Homo sapiens: one gene and its partner. The protein of the gene in region 1 interacts with the protein of each later gene in a biochemical or structural test. Each region holds a gene or a part of one and is shown in the gene's direction. Other genes may lie near its edges.

Region 1 (3,815 bases):
ATATGTTAGCTTGATTGTGTTCATCATTTCAGAGTGTATATGTATATCAAACATGTTGTACACCTTAAATATATATAATTTTTGTTAATTATGACCCAATATAGTTGTGGCAAAAAAGAACATACTATGTTAATGCTAGATTAGAATTTTTGAATCTTTTTACATAGATTATCCCTCCTCCCTCTTCCCCTGCCTGAGAAAGCAGATTTTTTTTTTCATTTTACATATGAGGAAATATTCAGAAAGATTTATTAAGTTGACCAATTAGGTTAATACGTTCTAGAGTTTGTCCTGGAACCTAGGTCTCTGATCTCTGAGCATTTGTTTCTCTAATCTATGCTGACATCTTTAAAAAGTGATGGTGGCCAGGCACGGTGGCTCATGCCTGTAATCCCAGCGCTTTGAGAGGCCGAAGCGGGTGGATCATGAGGTCAGGAGCTCAAGACCAGCCTAGCCAACATGGCGAGACTCCCCGTCTCTACTGAAAACACAGAAATTAGCCTGGCTTGGTGGCGCCTGCCTGTAATATCAGCTACTCGGTAGGCTGAGGCAGGAGAATCACTTGAACCTGGGAGGCGGAGGTTGCAGTAAGCTGAGATCACGCCACTGCACTCCAGCCTGGGAGACAGAGCAAGACTCCATCTTGGGGGGTGGCGGAAGTGATGGTGATTACTGGGATGCATTAATATCAGAGGTGTTTTGTTGTTGTTGTTGTTGTTGTTTTTTGGTTTTGTTTTATTGGAGACAGCATCTTACTCTGTTGCCCGGGCTGGAGTGCAGTGGTGTGACCTTGGCTCACTGCATCCTTGACCTCCTGGGCTTAAGCCGTCCTCCCTCTTGAGCCTCCTGAGTATCTGGGACCACAGACGCATGCTACCACACCCGGCTAGTTTTTGTATTTTTTTGTAGAGACGAGGTTTTGCCATGTTGCCCAGGCTGGTCTTGAATTCCTGGGCTCAAGCAATCTGCTTGCCTTGGCTTCCCTTTGTAACACCTCCGAAAGGTATAGACGTGAGCCACTGTGACCAGCCCTTCAGCTGTCTTCTAAAGAATGAAATAGTTTTCAGATATTTTGCTTAACTAGAAGAAGGCAAAAAAGTAGGTTCTGTGATTGGATAAGTTTTGGAAATGTTGGAGTATAAAAAGTTAAAACCACTTTCTTTCCTGTAAGACTTCTTTGTTCTTAATAAGCTAATGTATATTGTGTTGCTAGATAAATGGGATAAATTAAGTGACGTTTTCTGAACTTAACTACAAAACTGTTTCTTAGGACTATTGTTACAAGAACACACTTCAAGAATATTTGCTTTTGTTAACTCCAGTGCTATTTTAATTACTTCAAATTACTTCATTTTCTAAGTTTATCTTTATGATTTTTCATGACTGTAGTTTGTAGAAATACACTTACAAAATAACATGGTACATGCCTGCACGTTGTATTTATATAAATGCCAAACAAAAGTTTTATGATGTTAAGGGACTTCTGGTATTTTCCATTCCATTTCATTTAAAAAATGCTGGTTGTGGTTGAACACTATGGCTCATACCTGTAATCATCACAGCATTTTGGGAGGCTGAAATGGAAGAATCACTTGAGTCCAGGAGTTTGTGACCAGCCTGGGCAATGTAGTGAGACCCCATCTCTTAAAACAGTAAATAAATTAGCGAGTGCCTGTAGTCCTAGATACTGGGAGGGTGTGTGGGGTGGTGGGGGGAGGGGCTGAGATGGGAGGGTCACTTGAGCCCAGGATCTAGGCTGCAATGACCTATGATGACACTGCTGCACTGGGCAACAGAGCCTGGGCAACAGAGTGAGACCCTGTCTCAAAAAAAAAAAAAAAAAAAGCTGATTATGACTGTTAAAGTGATTTCATGATTCACTAATGTGGCAACCCTCAATTTGAAAAACACTAGTCTATGTGGTCACTTAGAAATTTCTTTTTCTGAGGCAGGGTCTTGCTCTTGCTCAGGCTGGAGTGCAAGGATGTGATCATAGCTCACTCCAACCTTGAACTCCTGGGCTCAAGAGATTATCACTTTTTTTTTTTAAACTGCTTTCTTAAGTTCATTTCTTGGTTTTGAGGGATAGTGGCAAATCAAATTTGCAGAATTCTCTAGTTCTTATTTGTTTCAAATTTATGGCACTATGTGGTCACGTTGTTGCTATTTCTTTAGTAGTGCCCCGAGATTCAAAATAATTAAGCAGGAAGCTTGGAAGTCTTCTAATTAGACTAGGCAAGAACTAAATGCAGTATTTTTTAGTGTTTAAGTAAGCATTAGTAATAGACTATAAAGTTTCATCTTTTTTATTAGATTGCTGAGCTGAAAAGAGGTGCTGAAATTATTGTTTGCACACCTGGTCGAATGATTGACATGTTAGCCGCTAACAGTGGTAAGTCAGGGGTATTTTTTTGGTGTCTTTTATTTTTGAATTCTTTACTTTTTTTTGTTAAAACAGATGCAAGAAACCAACAAAGGGTTTCTATATTTCTTCTTAAAGCTGCAGTATCTTAAAATTTGTAGCCTGTAGTCCCAGCTACTTGGGAGGCTGAGGCAGGAGAATAGCTTGAACCCGGGAGGCGGAGCTTGCAGTGAGCCAAGATCGCACCACTGTACTCCAGCCTGGGTGACAGAGTAAGACTCCGTCTCAAAAAAAAAAAATAATAATTGTAACAAGTTGATTATTACAAGCATTAATGATATTTTTGCAATTTAAAATTTTTTTTCAGAAGTAACTCCATCTGATCATAACTTGGATTCTTAATCCAGTTTTGGCCTGGCTTTGCTTAGTAAAAGAGTGGGGTAGTAGCTTTTTCTTTATTACAAAATTTAGACTTTTTCTCCACATGAGCTAGTATTTTCTTAGATACTACATAAATTAAGATATTGCAGCTTCAAGAAATTTTATCTTTTGTAAATATTGCATGTTTGTAGCTCAAATGTTATGCTTTGTTAAATTATTCCCTATCAAAACTCTTACTAAACTGTTGACATTATTTAACTTCTGTGGAGAAAGGCCCTTCAAGATTTATAGAACTGGGCTTCCGAGACTTAAACCATCAAAGGTAGGTAATTTAATGCTGTTCCCGACCTTGCAAAACTAATTGGGGCTACAAATGCTAGTGTGGAATACTTAAATATTAGATAGCACTTATTTTGGCACTTTTTATTTTTTGAAGAAAATGCTCTCAGAGGTTTCCATTGCAATATTTAGTGTGTACATAATAGAGTATTAAAAACTGAGTTAGTGCATGTTTCTAGTAGTATTCTGCTTGAATTTCTAATTCTAATTGTACATGAAGTTGGCAAAGTGACATCGAAATTGAGAAGTCATTGTGCTTGTCTAGCATATGGAAAGTTTTGGTTTGAATGCTGATTAAATAATCCCTTTTTTTTTTTCTCAATGCTGCATTGATTAAGTCTCCTCCTGAAATTCATCTTGATTAATTTTACCTTTTTCTCTTATCTGTCATTGTGGTCTATTTTTAAATAACTATTTTATACGTGTTTTTGCCAGGTGATTGATTCAACAGTTGATAGCAATGCTTCTGTTAATATTTTAGAAGGAATTTCCTATGTATGTATTTTGTTTTCACTGGTTAGGAAGCCAGTTGCATTTATTTAAGTCAGTGGGTTCACTTAATAAAATTGGGATTTATATCTTTGTATGGAAAATGTATTTATGTAATGTGTTTTGGTATTTAAAGTTTTTGTGTGATACTTTAATTTCCTAATGCTGTCAAATAGCTTCTCATTAAGGGTTTGACATGCCCATTTAAGAAGCTTCTAAATATATGGAAGTAGGTTATAAAATA
Region 2 (3,815 bases), on another chromosome or scaffold:
ATTGGGAAATCATCAGTGTATAACTGAAGCTGTGGGCATTAATGAATACTTATACTGATTATAGGATGAGAAAGAGGAAGGGGCATGAGAATAAGCCATAAGAAACTCCAGCAGGTAATGGCTAATAGAGGAAGATGAGCCAGCAGAGGAGTCTAGGAACCCAGCAAACAGTAACAAGAAGTGTAAAAGATGAGATGAGATGAGGAGTGTGGAGATGAGAGTGTGGAGGCCCCGGATAGAGGCTGGATGAGAGATTCACGGGGTCAGATGCTGCTGGGAGGACAACCAAGACGAGCACTGTGTCTGTTGGATTGAATGACACAGGGGTCATGTTGACCTTGGTAGGAGCTGTTACTGAGTCGTGTTGGGAGTGGAAGCAGGTTTGGAAAGGGTTGAGGAGTGAGTGGGAGGTGAGGAAGTGGCAACAGTGAGTGGAGACAACTCTCTCAGGAAGTTTGCCTGTATGGGGGAGGAAAGAGAGCAGTGAGTGGATCTGGAGGAGCGTCAGGTCAAGTTGGGAGACCGTGGATCCTATTGAGAAGGAGAGGTTGATCATATAGAGGAGAAAATAGATAAACAGTGGTATAAAATTCCTGGAAAGGCATCATAGGAAGAATCCAAATCATAGGTGAAGCAGTTGGTTTTGGGAAGGAGAGAAAGGGATAGGTGCTGAAGTTTGGTTAGGTTTTTATGTTTGAGGATGTTACCCAGTTGGATGGCTTCCCTTTCCTCTGTGAATCAGGAGGGGAGATCAGCCTCTGAGACGGGTGGCCAATGGAGAGTTATGTCCTAGTCTCAGGCAGGCCTTTGCTGATGTCTTGGCTGTAGTAAGCCCCAGGTTCCTGTAATGCCCTCCTCTTCCTCCTTCATGATATTCAGTCAACAAATAGGGAATGCTATGGGTGCCAGGCACTGTTCTAGATGTTGGTGTTACACTGCATTGTAACAAGTTGTTCAATGACTGTTTCCCGCTGAACTGAGAACTCCTCCAGAGGAAGAACCATTTCTTTTGTCTTCATCACTCTCCCCTGTGTCTAGCACAGTGCCTGGCATATGGGAAGCTGTCAGATTAGACAACTCCTGACTTTGAGCAAGACTCAACCCCAACCCCTGTGGTCTGATGCCAGGATCTTCAGGCTTAGTGACTACTTCTTTCACTTCCTGCCCCGAGGCCCCTGCCCAACTCCCTGCCTTGAGCCAGAACCCAGTTGGCTCTTTGCATCCTTTGGTAACTCCAATGAGAGGGGAGAGATTAGGTTGTGTTCCTTCTTTAAAAAATTGGACTGAGATCATCTTTTTGACCTCGAGCAGTGGGGTGTTGGTGACCACACCACCTCAGGCTAGATGCTCAGGCTTCAGCACTTAAACAGTTTCACCATTCTTCCTCTAATACTTCCTGCCCTGGTGACCAGATTGGCGGGGCTGCCCTGAGGTCAACTTGGCTCTTCACTGTTTCAGCCTCACAGTGCATGCACTCTTCTCAGATCATATCTCCTAGTGCCTAGGAGGTTGGTCTCTGCCTGACCTTTGAGAAACCTGGCTCTGTACACTACTGCTTCAGAGAAGGGTTTGCCATCCTTAAGGTCCTCTGAGCATGGCAGAGTCGTGGAGTCTTCTGCTTCCTGACACCCATGGAGATGCCACTCTTGAACAGTGTCTGTGCCAAGATGTTGGTTTAAGCTACCTCCCTCGCTCCCTTTTCCTAGATCTCAGCCCTCACCTCTCCAGGATTCCTGTCCCATCTTACTTCCCACTCAGGGACCCTTTGGCATTCTCTGACACCCTCCCAAACACTCCCTTTGCTCCTCCCCAGCCCATTGGGCCACACAGCCTTTCTTGGTATTTATTCCCAGCCAGTTCTGAGCTTCCTGGATCCTCCCACCCCCTGTGTCTGTCCCGTTCATCCGTCCTTTCCTTCTGCAACAGCCCAGTCTGTGTCGGCACACGGCACACTCTCTTTGGTAATGGGAATGTGAAATTGAATAAGACACCGTCTCAGATATTCTGATAGAATGTGGTTCTGGGTGTTGTGAGACACGAAGGAGAGAACAGTCACTTGATGGTGGGGAGAGAACAGGAAAGACTGCTTAGGAGCTGTAACTGCTGAGGTTAGTTTTGAAATACAAGCAGAGGTTCTCACAAGGGGAGACAGAATTCCAGGCCGAGGGAGCAGTATAAACAAAGACCCAGGGCTTTAAGAGTGTGCGACATGTTTCAGAATCCGCCACGCTTCATGTGGCTAGAGTATAAGGTATAAAGGAGGCGGGAGGTGGGGAGGGGACTGACAGGTTATAGAGGCCGGCTTAAGAGGGCTCTTGGGTGTCTGCGAACGAGTGCAGGCGTTATCCGAAAGGCAGTGGTGAGCCCTCTCATTTTCTGAACCAGGGAGTGACACAATCTGGTTTCCATTTTTGGAAGATTACTGTGGTTCTGGGAGGAGGTAGAGCTATTTTTTTCTTCATTTATTCCAGTGGCTGTGAGTTTTCTCATTGGCCAGGAGGAGTCACACTGAGCAGATCAACAGCCCCACGTGAGGCAGACACGTGCGCAGAAACCTTTTTCATCTTACAGATGTGTGGGTAGCATAGCACTAGTGTCTGAGGAACTAGAGACGTAGAAAGGTGAGCTATGGGGCCGGGCGCGGTGGCTCACGCCTGTAATCCCAGCACTTTGGGAGGCTGAGGCGGGTGGATCACCTGAGGTCAGGAGTTTGAGACCAGCCTGGCCAACATGGTGAAACCCTATCTCTACTTAAAAGAAAAAAAAAAAAAGAATTACAAAAATTAGCTGGGCGTGGTGGTGGGCACCTATAATCCCAGCTACTCAGGAGGCTGCAGGAGGTTGCAGTGAGCTGAGATCGTGCCATTGCACTCCAGCCTGGGCGCACCGCACCTGGAGAGATGGGCAAGCCCTGCTCAGGTAGCTGCAAGACCTGTGCTCAGCGCTGAGAACACAGAGGGAAGGGGGGTAGTGGTGAGTCAGGGAAAGAAAGAACTCCTTAGTAGAGGAACAGGGAGATAGGGAACTCTCAGATAAGACATCAAGGAGAAAGGTCTGTACAGTGGGAATGAGAAAGAGCACAGTGCAGTGTTTGTTGGGATGGTCAGTGAGGGAGAATTGTCTGTTGGGGGAAGGGTCGGGTAGGGCAAGAGAATCAGTGAGGCCATCGAGGGAGGAGAGAGTAATGTGGTAGGGGCTGTCTGAAGGAGGGCTTGCATGGAGGGCTCAGGATGAGAGAGAAGTGGGCAGTGGTTGGTCAGGGAGAAATAACTGAAATCGGGGGCTGGTGAGGGTCCAGGGAGAGAGCACTTTCTCTTGGGGGTCCGGGAAGGAGAGCAGCAGAGCAACTGGAAGGTCAGGGAGAGTGGGGAGGATGGAATGGGGCCGAGGGTGGGTCCCTGGGTGGCGGGCTGGAAGGATAGTTGGGACTCAAATGGTTGCGGAGAAACTGACCCACGAAGGGCTGTGAGGAGGCAGAGGGAGGGGTCTGGAGGGGGAGCTGTCCTTGCGGAACAGGACGTCCTCTTACCTGAGAGGCAGGTGGAGTTTGTTTGGGGCACCATAAGGCATAGTAACGTAACCAAAGTGTTTTCTGACACTGGCAGAGGAGATGCCAAAGCGAAGCCTGGAGGAAATGGGGACTGATTCATACATTCATTCAGCAAATATTAATGGAGTTCCTGCTCTGTGCCAGGACTACGCTAGGCACTAGGCATACTGTATTTAACCAAAAAGGCAAAATCCTCACCAACATGGAAATTATAAATTATAGTCATGAGGAGACAATCATTAGACAAAGTAAATAATAAATTGGC

The links.
Region 2: the proteins of DDX46 (region 1) and APBB1 form a complex in vitro, tested with the Homo sapiens proteins (one study listed by BioGRID).

The regions. Positions count from the first base shown.
Region 1 is NC_000005.10:134,786,200-134,790,014, forward strand, and holds part of DDX46 (probable ATP-dependent RNA helicase DDX46), read left to right. Parts: intron 1-2,313; coding exon 2,314-2,392; intron 2,393-3,016; coding exon of another isoform or gene 3,017-3,069; exon of another isoform or gene 3,070-3,415; intron 3,416-3,815. UniProt on the Homo sapiens protein: Component of the 17S U2 SnRNP complex of the spliceosome, a large ribonucleoprotein complex that removes introns from transcribed pre-mRNAs.
Region 2 is NC_000011.10:6,412,588-6,416,402, reverse strand, and holds part of APBB1 (amyloid beta precursor protein binding family B member 1), read left to right. Parts: intron 1-3,815. UniProt on the Homo sapiens protein: Transcription coregulator that can have both coactivator and corepressor functions. Adapter protein that forms a transcriptionally active complex with the gamma-secretase-derived amyloid precursor protein (APP) intracellular domain.